2 separate regions of the Homo sapiens genome follow, and region 1 is linked to region 2. The links come from fine-mapping of genetic effects on gene expression. A gene starts in region 2. The other region holds a variant in brackets. All regions are shown on one strand. Distances are between the middles of the regions.

Evidence for each region. PIP is the estimated chance that this variant, and not a neighbour inherited with it, causes the effect.
Region 1: its variant is fine-mapped to the expression of SPMIP1 in esophagus mucosa (GTEx, PIP 0.90).

Annotation. Positions count from the first base shown.
Region 1 is chr7:128,888,653-128,896,970 of GRCh38, forward strand. It overlaps KCP (kielin cysteine rich BMP regulator), which reads right to left. Exons shown (of 40, transcript NM_001366122.1): 9 at 5,548-5,641; 10 at 5,324-5,403; 11 at 5,154-5,247; 12 at 4,739-4,824; 13 at 4,586-4,667; 14 at 4,217-4,369; 15 at 4,036-4,142; 16 at 3,862-3,955; 17 at 2,994-3,167; 18 at 2,799-2,881; 19 at 2,533-2,626; 20 at 2,253-2,444; 21 at 1,691-1,861; 22 at 211-387. LOC105375497 (a long non-coding RNA gene) reads left to right here and starts at 2,577. Exons shown (of 4, transcript XR_927958.2): 1 at 2,577-2,651; 2 at 7,324-7,464. RefSeq lists enhancers at 1,290-1,880, 1,881-2,470, 2,471-3,061, 4,011-5,211. The variant G/C (reference allele first, on the strand shown) is at 4,715.
Region 2 is chr7:128,861,281-128,869,598 of GRCh38, forward strand. It overlaps SPMIP1 (sperm microtubule inner protein 1), which reads left to right and starts at 5,050. Exons shown (of 2, transcript NM_001195150.3): 1 at 5,050-5,550; 2 at 7,386-8,318. The coding sequence starts at 5,130. The coding sequence ends at 7,495. ATP6V1F (ATPase H+ transporting V1 subunit F) reads left to right here and starts at 1,576. Exons shown (of 2, transcript NM_004231.4): 1 at 1,576-1,782; 2 at 4,097-4,567. The coding sequence starts at 1,625. The coding sequence ends at 4,298. FLNC-AS1 (FLNC antisense RNA 1) reads right to left here and starts at 1,346. Exons shown (of 4, transcript NR_149055.1): 1 at 1,245-1,346. RefSeq lists enhancers at 1,190-1,299, 1,380-1,869 and silencers at 7,918-8,027, 8,158-8,318.

The DNA of each region.
Region 1 (8,318 bases), 27 kb after region 2:
CACACACACACAGAGCCACACATACACACACACATACATACAAACACACAGCCGTGCCCGGGACCTCTATCAAAGGTGAGGGAGTCGGAGAGTGAGAGAAAAGTATGGTGGAGCGGCAGGCAGTGGGAGGGCTGGGAGGAAAGTGGAATCGGTGAGAAAGGCACCCCGGGAGCCCCAGCAGGGGGAATGGAAGGGCAGGTGTGGCTCTACCCTGGCAGGTCGGGCAGCAGTGCCCAGAGGGGATGAGTGGGTGGCTGCAGCCCGGAGGCTCACAGGGCCGGCGGCCGCAGGTCACGAAGCCTCCAAGACAGGTACACAGGTTGCAGGGTTCTCGGGGGTCTGGGAACTCCTGGTTACTCAGGTAGGACTCCCCCAGGTACTCACAGCCTTTCAGAGAAGAGACAGAGAGGCCGAGGGGAGGGACAGAAAGGGATGAGAGGGCAGTGGTCATAGGCTCTGAGCTTGGGCCTGTTATGCATCCAAGATCTCAAAGATCTAGCGTGGGGGCTGGGGGGTCACAGGCCAAGCCCAGGGGGCAAAGCAGTCGTGAGGGGGGCGGGGTTTGGATTGGCCAAAAGGCAAACTTTCTCCCCTTTATCCTGCAAAAAACCTTCCTGTTTAATTTGTAGAAAAACACCCACAAGGAATCTGCTGCCCCTGGGGTTAAATACTCAGCAGGCCATTGCCAGAGGCACCAGTTTCCCAACCCGGAGAGCTGGGAGTAGCCCCAGCTGACTCAGGTGGTGTGGACCCAAGGTAGCGCCTTTCCCACGCTCTTCCGAGCCCACTGATGAATCCAGGAAGGGGTGGGGTCCCAGGGTGGTGACAGCCCGCTCTTGGCACCTCTGCCATTTGCTCACCTCCCTTTTTAAAAAAGAAGGGTGAATTTCAGGCTCAAAGCCTTGGTGGGCAAAAGTATCTGACAAGGATTTAACAACATTATAATTTTAATTATATTCATTTTTATGGTAATGTGGTCCTGGCAAGTCTAATTTTCCACTTACAGTGTGATATAAAACTCCTTTCTAAATCAAATTAAATTAATAAGTGAGTTAATTGGAAGGCAAATAGTAAATAAAATTACAGTTGGTAAGGGCAAGTGGCCAAAATGGCCAAGATCGCACAAGAGTGAGGGAAGACAGGGGGACTGGGGGACTGGGTCTTTTTACAAGAGCCAAATTTAGGCCCAGAGAGGCTATGTAACTTGCCCAAGACCACACGGCAAATAGCAACAGAGGCAGGAGAAGATCCAGGCTTTAGTGTCAGGCTTTTTTTTTTTTTTTTTTTTTTTTTTGAGACAAGGTCTCACTCTGTCACCCAGCCTGGAGTGCAGTGGTGAAAACACGGTTCACTGTAGCCTCAAACTCCTGGGCAATCCTCCCACCTCAGCCTCCGGAGTAGATGGAACTACAAGAGGCACCACGACCAGCTGATTTTAAATTTTTTGTGTAGAGACAAGATCTCTCTATGTTGCCCAGGCTGGTCTTGAACTCCTGGGCTCAAGTGATCCTCCTGCCTCAGCCTCCCAAATTGTCGGGGTCACAGGCTTCAGCTAGGGCTCCCAGCCTCGGGGCTTTTTCTTACTGTAATAAATATTTTAGATCCACCCTAGGGCAGTAAAGATTATTCTGACCCAGCCCTCTGGTCTCCCGCATCCCACCCCGGCAGCTCCCTATCCCATGACCCTCACCATCACAGTCAGGGCAGCAGTCGCCCCTGGCAGGGAAGGGGCACAGTGCAGGGGCACATGCCTTGGGCTCGCAGCTCACGCTGCCCTCCCAGCAAAGGCAGAGGTGGCAGGCAGCAGTGGGCGATGGGAAGCGCTCCCCGCTGGCAAACTCCTTCCCCTGGTACAGGCAGCCTGGGGAGAAGGGCAGGGGCTGGGGGGCCGTGGGGACTAGAGGGCTGTGGGGACTTGGTGGTCGTGGGGTTGAGGGGCGTGGAGGACGGGTGTCGTGGGGGCCGTGGGGGCTGGAGGTCGTGGGGGCTGGGGGTCCGTGAGGGCGGGGAGGCCGTGGGCTCCGTGGAGGCTGAGGTCCGTGGAGGATGGGTGTCGTGGGGGGCTGGGGGCCGTGGGGGATGGAGGGCCGTGCCGGCTGGCTCCCAGGCCATGCTGACCGGACACTACATTCCTAACAAGATCCCCGACGTGGGCGGAGCGGGCCTGGAGGAAGGGGACTGGGCAGGGCGCTCCGGGGCGGGGCGGGGCGGCAGGACGCGGGTGGCCGGGAGGGGCACCGCCAGGGCGTTACCGTCGCAGGAGGGGCAGCAAGGCCCCTGGCGCGGGTGCGCGCAGGGCGCGGGCGGGCAGGGCAGCCGCTGGCAGGACACGGAGCCGTCGAGGCAGAGGCAGCGGCGGCAGGGATCGCCGGGCGGGGAGAAGTACTCCTGGTGGCGGGCGTGGGCCGCGCCGGGCCGTGGGCAGCCGGCGGGGGCTGGGGCGGCTGCGGCGAGACAGCGCATCAAAGGGGCCCAGGAACAGGCCTCCGAGGGGACCCCCAGGGAGGAGCAGCCGAGGGGTGCGGCCCCTACCTGGGCACTGCGGGCAGCACTCTCCCGGCAGCAGGACAGGCTCTGGACAGGGCAGCGGCACGCAGCGGCGGGCCAGGCACTGCACGTTGCCGCTCTACGGACCGACAGACGCACCACGGGTCAGTGGGTTAGTTGGGGGAGGCCGAGGAGACCCCTCCCACCCAGTGCCACCAGGTCCCACCCCTCCCACCTGGGCGGGCCTCTCCTGGCCTCTGCAAGTCCCGCCTCCACTCCCCTGGGCGCCTCCCACCCAGGTGCAGACTCACCAGACAGCGACACAGACGGCAGGGGTCAGAGGGGTGGGGGAAGTCCGCTCCGCTGGGGTACTCTTTCCCGCCAAAGGCACAGCCTGGGGGAGGGAGGGGCTATAGCCTGGGAGAGGGCGACTGCCCCAGGGCGTGCTGCCTTCCGGGGGCCATGCCATCCCATCCCAGAAGGCCGCCCTGACCCGCCCACCTCACCGCTGCAGTCGTTCGGGCAGCAGGTCCCAGGCAGCGGGTGGGCACAGGGGGCCCTGGGGCAGGGGCGAGGCTGGCAGTGGGCATGGCCTTCCTGGCATCGGCACTCCTGGCAGGGGTCTCGGGGGTGGGAGAAGCTCTCGCCGTCCACAAACACCTCTTCCTCCAGGATGCAGTCTGGGCAGTGGATGGTGGGGGCAGGTATGAGGGCAAAGCCTGACAGTCCCTCCAGCCCTGGAGTCCAGAGCCGCCACACAAGTGCCCACTTGGAAGCTGACTCGAGGGGAAAGAGGAGGAAGTGGCCATGTGCACATGTGTGCAGGCATGTGTATCGTTGTGAGCACACACGAGTGTGCGTGCGCATTGGGGGTCATTCACCTGCAGGCAGATGTGTGTCTCTGAGGGGAAGAAGGGGAGTGCTTACACATGTGTGTACCTGTGTTTGACACACGCCCTCACACAGACTCTCTATGCGGGCAGGGACGTGTCCCATGCATCCCAGCACCCGGCCTCCTACGTGGCAGGCTCAAGTGCCTGCTCATGAACCTGTGTTATCCAGGTAGATACATGGGTTTACCTGGGGGGTAGGGGGGTGGGGGCCCTAGCGTGGTGGGGCGGGGGGCAGTAGTTACTAGAAGAGGAAATGGAGCATGGGAGGAGAGGGTGGTGTAGGTACAGGCAGGAATAAACAAATCTCTCTACTCTCCCTCCCACCCACACCCCGTGAGTTCCAGAGAGTTCTAAGCTCTGAAACAAGACTGAAACAATTCAGAAGGCCATTGCTTTCTAAGGTACCTGTTGGGCCCATGGGGCTGTGGGACAGCAGCCTCTGGGGCCCTGATCCCCTCAGGCCCAGTGAGTGCCCACATACCTGGGCACCTGGGGCAACACTGGCCTGGTCCACTCTGGGGCCTGGCACAGGTCGTGGGAGGGCAGTCAACCAAGGAGCATGTCACAGTTCCATCCTGCGAGAGAGCAGGGGAGAGAGCAATCGGGGCATGCCCAGGAGGGGCTCAGCAGGGCAGCAGCAAGGCTGGGCAGTTACCTGACAGTGGCAGGCATGGCAAGGGCTGTCTGCATCCGTGAAGTTCTGCCCATTGGCATACACTTGGCTGTGGTAGGTGCAGCTGTCACAGCTGGGGCAGCAGGCACCTGGGTGGGGCAGGCTGGTCAGGGTGAGCTGGGTAATGCAGGGGAAGAAAGCCAGGATCAGCCCAGGCACTCACCAGGGGGCTGGGTGGGGTGCTGGCAGGGGGCTGGGGGGCAGAGCACAGCCCCGCACTTGGGTACCCCATCTTGACAGACGCAGGCGGTGCAGGGCCGACCATCAGGCTCCCACTGGACTCCCTCAGCAAACTCCTCTCCATCCAGCTCACAGGCTGTAGTAAGGGGGCTGTCACATGGCAGCCTACACACCTCCCACCCATCCCTGTCCTTCCCAGGACACAGGGACCCCACCTTCGCCATCCCCGCTGACACTGTAGAATGGCTAGTGGACTTAGCAACCCGTACCCCGTCCTGGGAAGGAGCACCCTCCTTCTGCAGCCCTCAGAGGCAGCGCCCATAGCAGCTGCTCCTCCCCCTCTCACACACACCTGGGCAGAGCTGGCGGCCAGAGGCAGGCAGGGCACAGGGGGTGACTGGGCACTCCTGCTCCTCACAGGAGACCTCGCCAGCCTAGGAGGGAAGCAGGTGAGACACCCTGAAGGAATGAGGCAGATCTG[G/C]GTGTGAGCGGAGGGACCGCCTACCTGGCAGGAGCAGCGGACACAGAGGCCCCGCTCTTGGAGTCTGAAGGTCTCCTGGCTCTGATACTGGTGTCCCTGGTACTCACAGCCTGGATGGGATGACAGGGGCGTGGGGGTATAGGGCTGGAGGCAGAGGGGAAGCTTCACGTCACCCTGAGGTGTCCAACCCCCACCCTGACAAAGAAGACCCAGCCGAGTTCTCCAGGGCGCCCTGCCAGCAGCCCCCTGCCCCCCACAGCTATGCCACAGAAGCGCAGGCCCCAGCATGGTGCCAGTTTGCCATGAGAAGGTGTGGTGAGGACTCACTTTGGGAACAGGGTAACAGGGGCTTAGGTCCAAGAGAAGCAAATCCCCCACACCTACAGCCTCTCTGCAGCCAAGGCCTGCCCCTCCCGCAGAGACCCCGGCCCCCACTCACCATCGCAGACAGGGCAGCACTGCCCAGGGATCTTGCCTGGGTGTCTGCAGGGCACTGGCGGGCAGGGCAGAGGCTCACACTGGACACTCCCATTCTGCCAACAGGGCCTGGTCAGCACGCCAGAGGCAGGCCCCGGAGCCAGGCCCTCCCTGCCAGGCAGCCACACTCACAGCACAGCGGCAGTGCGAGCAGGGGTCCCCTGAGCCCACAGGCTCCCCGCTGCGGTGCTCCCGCCCGTTTAGGAAACAGCCTGTTGGGAAGGGGGGCCTTAGATGTTCCTCAGGGGCCCCTCCCCACCCTCTCCTGGCCTTCATGGGCCCCCGAGCAGGGCCACCCATCAATTTTCTCCAGGTTGCCCACCATGGTCAGGCCTCTGCCCTACCCACTGACTCACCATCACACACAGGGCAGCAGGTGCCTGGGAGGGGCCGGGCTGGGTATGGACACAGGCTGGCACATTCTCGCTGGCGGCACTGGATGTGACCCTCCTGGTGGGGAGAATGAACAGGGGAAGGGGCCGACAGGGCTCAACTGAGAGGTGGAAATGGCATTAGAATCCCAGCTATCCACTTATTAGATGTGTTTATGGGTTGAATTGTGTGTCCCCGCCCCCAAATCCATATGTTGAACTCCTCACCCCCAGCACCTCAGCCTGTTACACTATTTGGAAACAGGGTCATTGCAGATGTAATTAGTTAAGATGAGGTCATACTGGAGCAGGATGGGTCCCTAATTCAATATAACTAGTATCTTTTTTTTTTGAGATGATAAAAAAGACTTGCTGATAAAACAAGTTGCAGGTTTGCAGGTTGCAGGTTGAGATGGAGTTTTGCTCTTGTTGCCCAGGCTGGAATGCAATGGTGTGATCTCAGCTCACTGTAACCTCCACCTCCTGGGTTCAAGCGATTCTCCTGCCTCAGCCTCCCAAGTAGCTGGGATTACAGGCACGCACCACCATGCCCAGCTAATTTTTTATATTTTTAGTAGAGATGGGGTTTCACCATGTTGGCCAGGCTGGTCTCAAACTCCTGGCCTCAGGTGATCCACCTGTCTTGGTCTCCCAAAGTGCTGGGTTTACAGGTGTGAGCCACTGTTCCAGGCAATATCCTTCTAAAAAGGGGAAATTCACACACAGACACACACAGGGAGAATGGTATGGAAAAGAGAAGGCAGAGGTTCAGGTGCTGCAGAAGCCAAGGAATGCCAGAGTTCACTAGCAAATCACCAGAAGCGAGGGCAGAGGCTGGAGCAGATTCCTCCTCACAGTCCCAGAAGGAACCCTCCCACACCTTGATCTCACACTTCTGGCCTCCAGAACTGTGAGAGAATATATTTACATTGTTCAAGACACCCAGTATGCACTTATGCACTTTGTTACAGCAGCCCAGGAAACTCATACAGATACATAAACTAGCATGTCACTTAAGCTCTCTGTGACTCAGTTTACTCGTCTGAAAAAAAATGGACCTGAAAAAATAGTCCTGTTCTCATAGGCTTGTTGTGGGATGAAAGGAAACAAGGGGGCTGGTGTGGCATCTACCTCTAGAAGCTGGTACTTAGCATGGTGGCTACTGCCACTACCCCATGGCCTGACCCCAAAAGACCCCATGCCTTGAATTCACACCCACATCACTGGGCTCACTGCCTCCAGCCCCATCAGGGTCTGAGCAGCCAATGACTTCTCATGGGTGGGGAGAGGGAGGACGTGGTTGTGTCAGAGGCGTTTGAACCAAAGCAACTCCATCTTGAATAGGGGCTAGGTAAAATGAGGCTGAGACCTACTGGGCTGTATTCCCAGATGGTTAGGCATTCTAAGTCACAGGATGACAAAAGAGGTCGGCACAAAATACAGATCATAAAGACCTTGCTGATAGAACAGGTTGCAGCCAAAACCCACCAAAACCAAGATGGCAATGAGAGTGACCTCTGGTCGTCCTCACTGCTACACTCCCATCAGTGCCAAGACAGTTTACAAATGCCATGGCAATGTCAGGAAGTTACCCTATGTGGTCTAGAAGGGGGCATCATGAATAATCCACCCCTTGTTTAGCATATCATCAATAAATAACCATAAAAATGGGCAACCAGCAGCCCTCAGGGCTGCTCTGTCTATGGAGTAGCCATTCTTTTACTCCTTTACTTTCCTAATAAACTTGCTTTCACTTTATAGACTCACCCTGAATTTTTTCTTGTGCAAGATCCAAGAACCCTTTCTTGGGGTCTGGATCAGGACTCCTTTCCTGTAACATCTTTCTGGCGACCACTGAAGGGATGATAGTGCGGAAACCCCCGACCCAAAGGCTAATTTTTGGTAAGTGGTGGGGTCTGGTAATATCTTTCTGGTGAGCCATGGAAGGGACAATACTGAAGAAACCCCCCGACCAGAAGGAAATAGGCTGCAGCACTGACTGGCGGACTGTGGGTAAGTGGGGTGCATATACCCGGGTAAATAATGGGATTGGGTTAGAGGCCCAGCTTAGGGGAATTAGAGGCCTCTCTTAATAAAAGGCAAGGATGCTTGATGGACCTTGGGATAGAGGCCCAACTGGGGAGGGTTACAGTCCCTTCTAATATTTAGAGGGTTAGAGGCCCCTCTGGGTAAAATCCCTCCCGGTTAAGAATGGGTTTGGCACTACGGGATGTTAACTGCTATTCTCTTGGGATTAATCTGCCTTGTACTCTTTGCTGACGGCTATGGGTGACAGGATTAGGCAAGTACAGGATCGTGGGACATGCGGAGCTTTTTCCTCCCTAAAAGGGAAAACTTAAGAGCTAATAGGACTGCCAAAAAAGATCCCTCCATGGCCGGTCGCGGTGGCTCACACACCTGTAATCCCAGCACTTTGGGAGGCCGAGGAGGGCGGATCACGAGGTCAAGAGATTGAGACCATCCTGGCCAACACGGTGAAACTCCGTCTCTACTAAAAATACAAAAATTAGCTGGGCGTGGTGGCACACGCCTGTAGTCCCAGCTACTTGGGAGGCTGAGGCAGGAGAATCACTTGAAACCGGGAGGCAGAAGTTGCAGTGAGCTGAGATGGCGCCATTTCACTCCAGCCTGGCGACAGAGCAAGACTCCATCTCAAAAAAAAAAAAAAAAAAAAAAAAAATTCCCTTCTCTACCGATACACAGCCATCCAAACTTTTGAGCAATAGGTGGGTCTT
Region 2 (8,318 bases):
TAGCACTCTCTTACTTGAAATCCCTCAGCAGCTTCAGGATAACTGTCCTCAGGATAACTTCCAGATCTTTTTTTTTTTTTTTTTTTTTTTTTAGACAGAGTCTCACTCTGTCACCTAGGCTGGAGTGCAGTGGCGCCATCTCAGCTCACTGCAACCTCCCTTGCCCGGGTTCAAGCAATTGTCCTGCCTCAGCCTCCCGAGTAGCTGGGACTACAGGCACACACCACCTCACTGGGCTAATTTTTTTTGTATTTTTAGTGGAGATGGGATTTCACCATGTTGGCCAGACTGGTCTCAAACTCCTGACTTCAGGTGATCTACCCGCCTCAGCCTCCCAAAGTGCTGGGATTACAGGCGTGAGCCACCGCGCCCAGCCTGCAGATCCTTTTTTTTTTTTTTTAGACAGGGTCTCGCTCTGCTGCTCAGGTTTAAGTGCAGTGCCGTGATCATAGCTCACTGTAACCTTGAACTCCTGAGTAAGCCCTGCTGCCTCAGCTTCTCGAGTACCTGGAACTATAAGTGTGCACCACCACGCCTGGCTAATTTTTTTTTTTTTTTTTTTTTTTTTTTTTTGAGACAGAGTCTCGCTCTGTCACCCAGGCTGGAGTGCAATGGCACAATCTCGGCTCACTGCAACCTCCGCTTCCCGGGTTGAAGCAATTCTCCTGCCTCAGCCTCTCGAGTAGCTGGGACTACAGGCGCCCACAACCACGCCCGGCTAATTTTTTGTGTTTTTAGTAGAGACGGGTTTTCGCCATGTTGGCCAGGCTGGTCTCAAACTCCTGACCTCAGGTGATCCACCTGCCTCAGCCTCCCAAAGTGCTGGGATTACAGGTGTGGCGTGAGCCACCATGCCTGGCCTTACCAATTATTTAACTTTCCTTGAAGGCCCTACGCTCTCTAGTCAGTACGCCTTTGCACATGCTGTTCCTCTGCCTAGAACACCGTCTTGTCCTCACTTCTATCCCCTTCATCCTGCAGGTCCTTCAGGTCTCAGCTTAGATCTGAAGCAAGCTTCTTGGGGAAGGGTTCTTTGGACGCCCCCTCTCTCCATGGGTTAGTTACCATGGATGTGTGCTTCCATATACTTTTCACATTCTAACCATTAACACACAGCTTTGTAGTCGCCTGTTCCCTTGACTTTCCACCTCACTAGGCAGTATCATCATTAACTTTTGCATTCCTTTAACTGAACAAACGTGTGTTACTTGTTAACTATGTGTCATAGTTACACACATACATACACGATAAAGACCCAGACCCTGCCCTTGAGATGAGTAACTGCGTCTCTTCTCTGGGGTCTCGGCGTCTAACAGCGTCAGGTCCAAAGCGCTTGTTGAACGAATGAACCAAGGAACGAGTGAATGAACGAATGAATGCCCGCGAAGGACGTGGTGCCGCGCGGTCTTCTGGGAATCGTAGTCCCCTGGTTCGGGCCTGTCTTTACGGCGCAGGCGTATTCACATGGAGGCCGTGTTGCTGTTAATGCGCATGTCCCGGAATGCGGCTGGGAGGACTGCGCATGCTCGAAGGGTGGGGGTTGAGGCCGACGGGGCGCCGTACGGCGGAGGCGGGGTTTCAGTGGCTTCTGGTGCTCTAGGGTGAGCTCTGCCCGGCTGCAGGGATGGCGGGGAGGGGTAAGCTCATCGCAGTGATCGGAGACGAGGACACGGTGACTGGTTTCCTGCTGGGCGGCATAGGGGAGCTTAACAAGAACCGCCATCCCAATTTCCTGGTGGTGGAGAAGGATACAACCATCAATGAGATCGAAGACACTTTCCGGTACGGTACCGCGCGAGGCCTGAACGGGCCCTTCTGCTGCTCGGTGGAGTGCGGGGCGAGGCTGGAGGCTGCCCGGACGGGGGTGAGGGGACGATCCTGAAAGTCCTTCCGCCCTTCCGGAGCGGAGGCCTCCGCGCCCCAAGTCCCCGTTTGGGGCTCGGTGGGACAGAAGCTGTATCAGGTCCACGAGCCCCCCCACCTCACATGATCGTGTGTCATGAAAGAAGGGGAACAGAGCTCGTGACAGCCTAGACAGTGGGCTTGGACTTTGTTCTGCTTTCTCCTCCTTTAGAGGCTCACCATCGTCCCGTAAGGCAGGGATGATTTTTGTCCTACTCACAGGTGAGAAAACTAAAGCTCGGAGAGGGTAAGGCACACACTAAAGTTACGAGTCGGCAGAGGCAGAGCTAGAATTTGAACCCAATCTCAACCCTTTCTGCCTCCGGTAAGCCAGGTACACACTCTTGGCAGGTCTCCTCAGGCGGCCTCGGAATTTCCTTGTAGTCTTGAGCACAGTAGGCAGAAATGTCGGGACTGTGAGAGCCTTCTGCTAAGACCTTGCACTCAAGCCCTCACTGCCTGCCTTAGGTCAGAGTGTGGGTGCAGGCATGCTTTTAATCCACCAGGGGTCCTGGTGACTGGAATTAAGGATACCAGCCTCCTATTTTATTCCTCACCCCTTCTCCAGGGCCCCTGTACCAAGTCTCAGGAATAAACCACTCACCTGTTTCCCCCAAACAGTCCAGCCCAGGGCTGCTGGCTGAGACTGGTTCCTGCTGCCTGGTGTATTAGGTAGTCCCTGACCTGGGAGGCTGTTATCTGCCATTCTCTAAGCTGTCTGGTAAAGTGACCCAAGTTATCATGGGAGAAGGACAAATTTTACTTCAAGAATTTTTTATGTTTCCAACCAAAAGGGACCTCAGAGATCAAATCTAACCCAGTGACTGGCAGGGGGTGGGTGCTCAGTAAGTAATTTTTAATCAGTAAATAAACGAATGAGTCTGGGTGCAGTGGCTCACGCCTGTAATCCCAACAGTTTTGGAGGCCGAGGCGGGTGGATCACCTGAGCTCGGGAGTTTGAGACTAGCCTGACCAATATGGTGAAACCCCATTTCTACTAAAAATACAAAAATTAGCCAGGCGTGGTGGCGGGTGCCTGTAATCCCAAGAAATCAGGAGGCTGAGGAAGGAGAATTGTTTGAACCTGGGAGGTGGAGACTGCAGTGAGCCGAGATCCACCACTGCACTCCAGCCTGGGTGACAGAGGGAGACCCTGTCTCAAAAAAATAAAAATAAAATAAACAAATGAATGGGTGGGTGACCACAGGAGAGAAGGAGCACAAGGCCAGGTTCTTTTTGTGCAGAAAGTGTGATTCCTTCATCAAGGTGTCCTCTTCCTAGCTTGTGATCTTAGTTCATGCCAAACTTTCCCTCTGACCCCTCCACCACCCTCATCAGGATAGACCTTGAGGCCTTCAGTGGTCTCATCAGCCCTATTTTTAAATAATTTGTTTTCTTTTTAAAAGTTAATGTGTCTTTTTTTTTTTTTTTTTCTGAGACAGGGTCTCACTCCTGTCACCCAGGCTGGATTGCAGTGGCGTGATCGCAGCTCACTGCGGCCTCGACTTCCCAGGCTCAAGTGATTCTCCCACCTCAGCTTCCTAAATAGCTAGGACTACAGCTTCCCAAGTAGCTGGCACATGCCGCCACATCCAGCCATTTTTTTTTTGTGTGTATATATATAGATAGATAGATAGATCCGCCACATCCAGCCATTTTTTTGTGTGTGTATATATAGATAGAGAGAGAGAGAGAGAGAGAGGGAGATGGGGGTCTCACTATGTGGCCCATTCTGGTCTCAAACTCCTGGGTTCAAGCAATCCACCTGCCTCGGCCTCCCAAAGTGCTGGGATTACAGGCGTGAGCCATCACAGCTGGCCTTCAGTATCTGCACATAAAAAGGGATCTGCATACATATAATCTTATCCTTCCCCTTTCTGACACATCACTGCATATTGAATACACCAGTGTGCACCCTAATCAATCTTCATTACCAGTTCACTTGGAAGCCTTCCGGGCAGTGTTGTAGAAGCCAACCCTAATCAGCGTGACCCTCCGCTTTGGGATGAAATTGATTCTAGGTAGGGTTGACAGAGGGTTGAGCGTGGCAGCCTTTCCCCTTGTCCTCTGTGCCCTCTGGGTCATGCTCATTCCCCTCCACAGCCCAGCCCAACAACTCGGAGAGGGCTGCCTGGGTAGGAGAGACGGCAGCCCCCAGAGCTGTCCTGGACTCCCTTCTCATCTCTCCCCACAGGCAATTTCTAAACCGGGATGACATTGGCATCATCCTCATCAACCAGTACATCGCAGAGATGGTGCGGCATGCCCTGGACGCCCACCAGCAGTCCATCCCCGCTGTCCTGGAGATCCCCTCCAAGGAGCACCCATATGACGCCGCCAAGGACTCCATCCTGCGCAGGGCCAGGGGCATGTTCACTGCCGAAGACCTGCGCTAGGGGACTCCTCATAGCCCTCAGCCCTTCCCTCGTTTCCAGGCCTCTCCCCAGGCTTGCCATCAGCCTTCTTTACTTTTTGAGCCTCTGATTTCCAATTCCCTGCTCCTTCCCACTCCATTAAGAGGCTAGGTGAGGCGCTTCTAGGTTGCTGGGGCTCTGCTGGTTAAGGAACAGGAAGCCTGACCATCTCCCTCCACTACCTCTTCCCTGTGCTGTTACACAGTGTCATTGTTGATGTTAAATTAAAGTCATATTCTTGCTTCTCTCCAGATGGGTTGGGTGCTGGAAAGGACATGTGTGGGGTGAGGCCATGGGGCAGATTCGGTTGGCAAGGATGGAAAAGGTGCTGCCAAAGACAGGCATAGAAGAGGTGGCCCAGGAGGATTGTGCCGGGAGGCAGAACTCAAGGACTGGTCCTTGGATCAGAGAAGACCAGCTCTGGTCTGGGGAGGAATGGGAGGAGGCTTGAGCCCAGCTCCTGCTTCCCCCACCTTGCTCGGCATTGGGCTGGGAAGGGGGCCAGATCCAAAGGACAGAAGCAGAAAGCACACGAAACCTGGGAGTCTGTGATGCCAGATCCCGCGAGGGCCCTGCGGGAGTTTTGGGGGGAGCAGGGCTCTTAACCAGTGGGCCCTGGCCTCAGGCTGCCTCAGGAAGCCAGGCTCATGGGGTCTGCTGGGGGCATGGCAAGTAGAACCCTGGCCCTGTGTGAGGTGAGGCATGGTTGCCAGGTGACTGTGCCTGGGCAGCCACTCGCCGTCAGAAGCACTCTGCTTGCTGTGCTCACCCCTCAGCTGTGGCCACCCTGGTGCCACTCCTTCCCTGGCCACCATGTCACGGCAGCTCAACATAGACGCGTTACGGCAGAACTTCTGGAAGGAGGAATATCTGAGGGAAAAGATGTTGCGCTGTGAATGGTACCGCAAGTATGGGTCGATGGTGAAGGCCAAGCAGAAGGCTAAGGCTGCAGCCCGCCTGCCCCTCAAACTGCCCACCCTGCACCCCAAAGCCCCACTCTCACCCCCACCCGCCCCCAAGTCAGCCCCTTCCAAGGTGCCCAGCCCTGTCCCAGAGGCGCCTTTTCAGTCGGAAATGTACCCGGTACCACCTATCACCCGAGCCCTGCTGTATGAAGGCATCTCCCACGACTTCCAGGGGCGGTACCGCTACCTCAACACTCGAAAACTGGACATGCCAGAGACGCGATACCTCTTCCCCATCACCACCAGCTTCACGTATGGCTGGCAGCTGGGTGAGCCCAACCTCTTGGAAATCACCTCAAAAACAGAGCACTAGCCATGTGCTAGGGAGTGGGCATCCTGGTGAAGGGTCCAGACTATAAACAGAGCAAGGAGATGGCCAAGAAGTGTCGACACGTTCCACAGAACTAGGGAGTGGCGGTGGGCAGGGAGGCAGCGGCCACGTGCTGCTATTTATTGGATTGTCAGGAAAGGCCTTTCTGAGGACCCGAGGCTGAGAGCCAGATGATAAGGATGGGTTTGGATTTTATTTGTTGTGCAGGGAAGCTGATGGAGGGTTCTAAGCAGATTTCAAGAGTGACACTGGTGAACCTTTTAAAAAGTCACCCTGACCTGTATGTAGGCAGTGGCTTTTTCAGGGGAAATGGTAGAATCTGGCACATGAGTTGGGCATCTGTTTGGTTATCCTGTGGTAGTGGCCTGAGGGATCAGCAATAGAGCTGAAATCAATTCAGGATGTTTTGGGGGAAGACTCGGTGGAACTCACCCATGGATAGAATGTGAGAATAAGGGGAAGAGAGATCAATCACCCAGGTGTTTGTTTAGCTAAAGCTGCAGTGACAGGGAAGACTGGGAGAGGTCAGGGCTGGAGCGTGCATGAACAGGTCCTATTTAGCCATGTGTGTTTGGCTATGTTATGCTTGAAGTGTCTGTAGGGTGGCTGTGTCTATAAGTCTGGATTGAAGTCAGAGCTGAAGATGCAAATTCGGAGGTCATTGGAATATAGGTGCTTTTTTTTTTTCTTTTTCTTTTTGAAACAGTCTGACTCTGTCACCCAGGCTGGAATGCAGTGGCACGATCTTGGCTCACTGCAACCTCTGCCTCCCAGGTTCAAGAGATTCTTCTGCCTCAGCCTCCCGAGTAGCTGGGACTGCAGGCGTGTGTCACCACGCCCAGCTAATTTTTGTTTTTTTAGTAGAGACAGGGTTTCACCATATTGGCCAGGCTGGTCTCGAACTGCTGACCTCGTAATCTGCCTGTCTCGGCCTCCCAAAGTTCTGGGATTACAGGCATGAGCCACCGGCTGGCCTATAGGTGCTATTTAAATCCATGAGATCTCCTAGGGAGCTCAAGTTGCTGGAATCTGATGGGAGTGGGGGCAGGAGGGCTGAGCCAGAGCGGGTAGGGGATGTCATTGGCAGGAAGCCTGTCCATCTCGGCTGAGTCTTTTTTCTGTGAGGTTGAGTCAAGGCCATCAGCGGGGAGGGAGCTGAGCTGAGGCAGTGGAGTAACTAGAGATGAAGAGGAAAGGTGTGGAACAGGCATGTGCCAGGCAGGGCTGCTGGGCGATGTTGCTGCACGTCCCATTGCTGTCTGTGCTCATGAATGTCAAGTGAGACTCCTCAGCCCTGTACCCTTCTCCAGCTGCTTGAGTGTCTTGCAGAAAAGGTGGATGGTTGGGGATTGACTCAGTTGAGATTTTGCCCCCAAACATCCCTTTCCCCCAGGCCCCTAAAGGGGAAGTCAGGGAAATAACTTTCTAACAAAAGCAGGAGGCGAGCCCTAGAAGCGGGGAGCAGGAGGCCGAAGGAAATCTCATCTCTCCACAGTCTGTCCCTGTGACAAGCAGGCTAGGGTGGCCCCCCTCCCTGCAGGTAGAGGATCCTGAAGCTAGGGTAATGATGGCAGATGGCTGCTGTATCCTGGCATCCAGCCAGCTCCCAGTATTTGCCCATAGCTCCCATTCCTCCAAAGCACTTTCTATTTCTTCCCACAAAGTGGCTACTCCACTGACGGATTCCTAGGGCTGTGCAGACAGACAGGGCTCCCATGCTCTGCGTGTCCCTCCCTCAGGAACCCATGCTTGGCCTCTGACATCTTTTCCCAGGCCCCCCAGTGAAGCAAGAACTGGTCTCCTGCAAGATGTGCCGCATTGAGTCATTCTTCCGCAAGAACGGGGCCTTCGCACTGCTTGATCCCCGAGACCTGGCCCTCTGACCGTGGGCCAGGTGTGGGCTTAGGGGAGGGAAGAAGAAATAACAGGCCTCCTGGTGGGGCAAAGCTGCTGTGTGTGTCTGTGCCCCTCTGCTCTCCCTGTCCCTGAGGTTGCATTCAGGCCTTTCTGAAACTATCAGACCTGCAAGTTGCCCTCTTGCTTTTTCCGTAACCCTCATCACTTTAATCATCCCTTTGAGGACTCAGCAATGACCAGAGGGTGCTGGGAAGGGCGAGCACTACTTCGCAGGCACGGGATCCTCAGCACCAGGGGAACACAGTAGTTCCAGGAAGTTCTGGGTGTTCCTGGGGAGAGAGCGGCTTGTCATTTCGGAGGCCAGGGAAAGGGGCCTCCTGCCACCGCCACACCCCTCCTTGCCCGCCCCTCACCTGGCCCCGAGGGCCCGCAGCCGCTCCGTCCTCTCCCGATGCATTTGCTCCAGCTGCTCCCGCAGGGCGCGCCGCCGCCCAGCCGCGTCCTCCTGGCGGTGCGGAGCGCTGAGCGTCCGCGGCTCAGTGGGGCGGGCGGGGCAGCACCTGGCACACCTGCCCCTCGCGCCCCGCCGAGTCACTGCCAGAGTGCAGTGCGCTCACTTCAAAGGGACCCGGGCGCGCTAAGCTCGGCCCCTGCCCCGCGCAGGCTCCTTGTGGCCCCACCGCCTTCTAGGGGTCTTGCCTGTGGCGGGAGTTGAGCCGGACTGGGCGGGAGCCCCACGGGGTGAACCCGGCAGTGGCGGTTCCTGGCGATGTGGAGGCGTTCCAGGACCTGCAGAGGCGGCAGTCAGCGTCCGGCCGCCCCTCGGTGCCCCGCCCGCTCCAGGCAGGC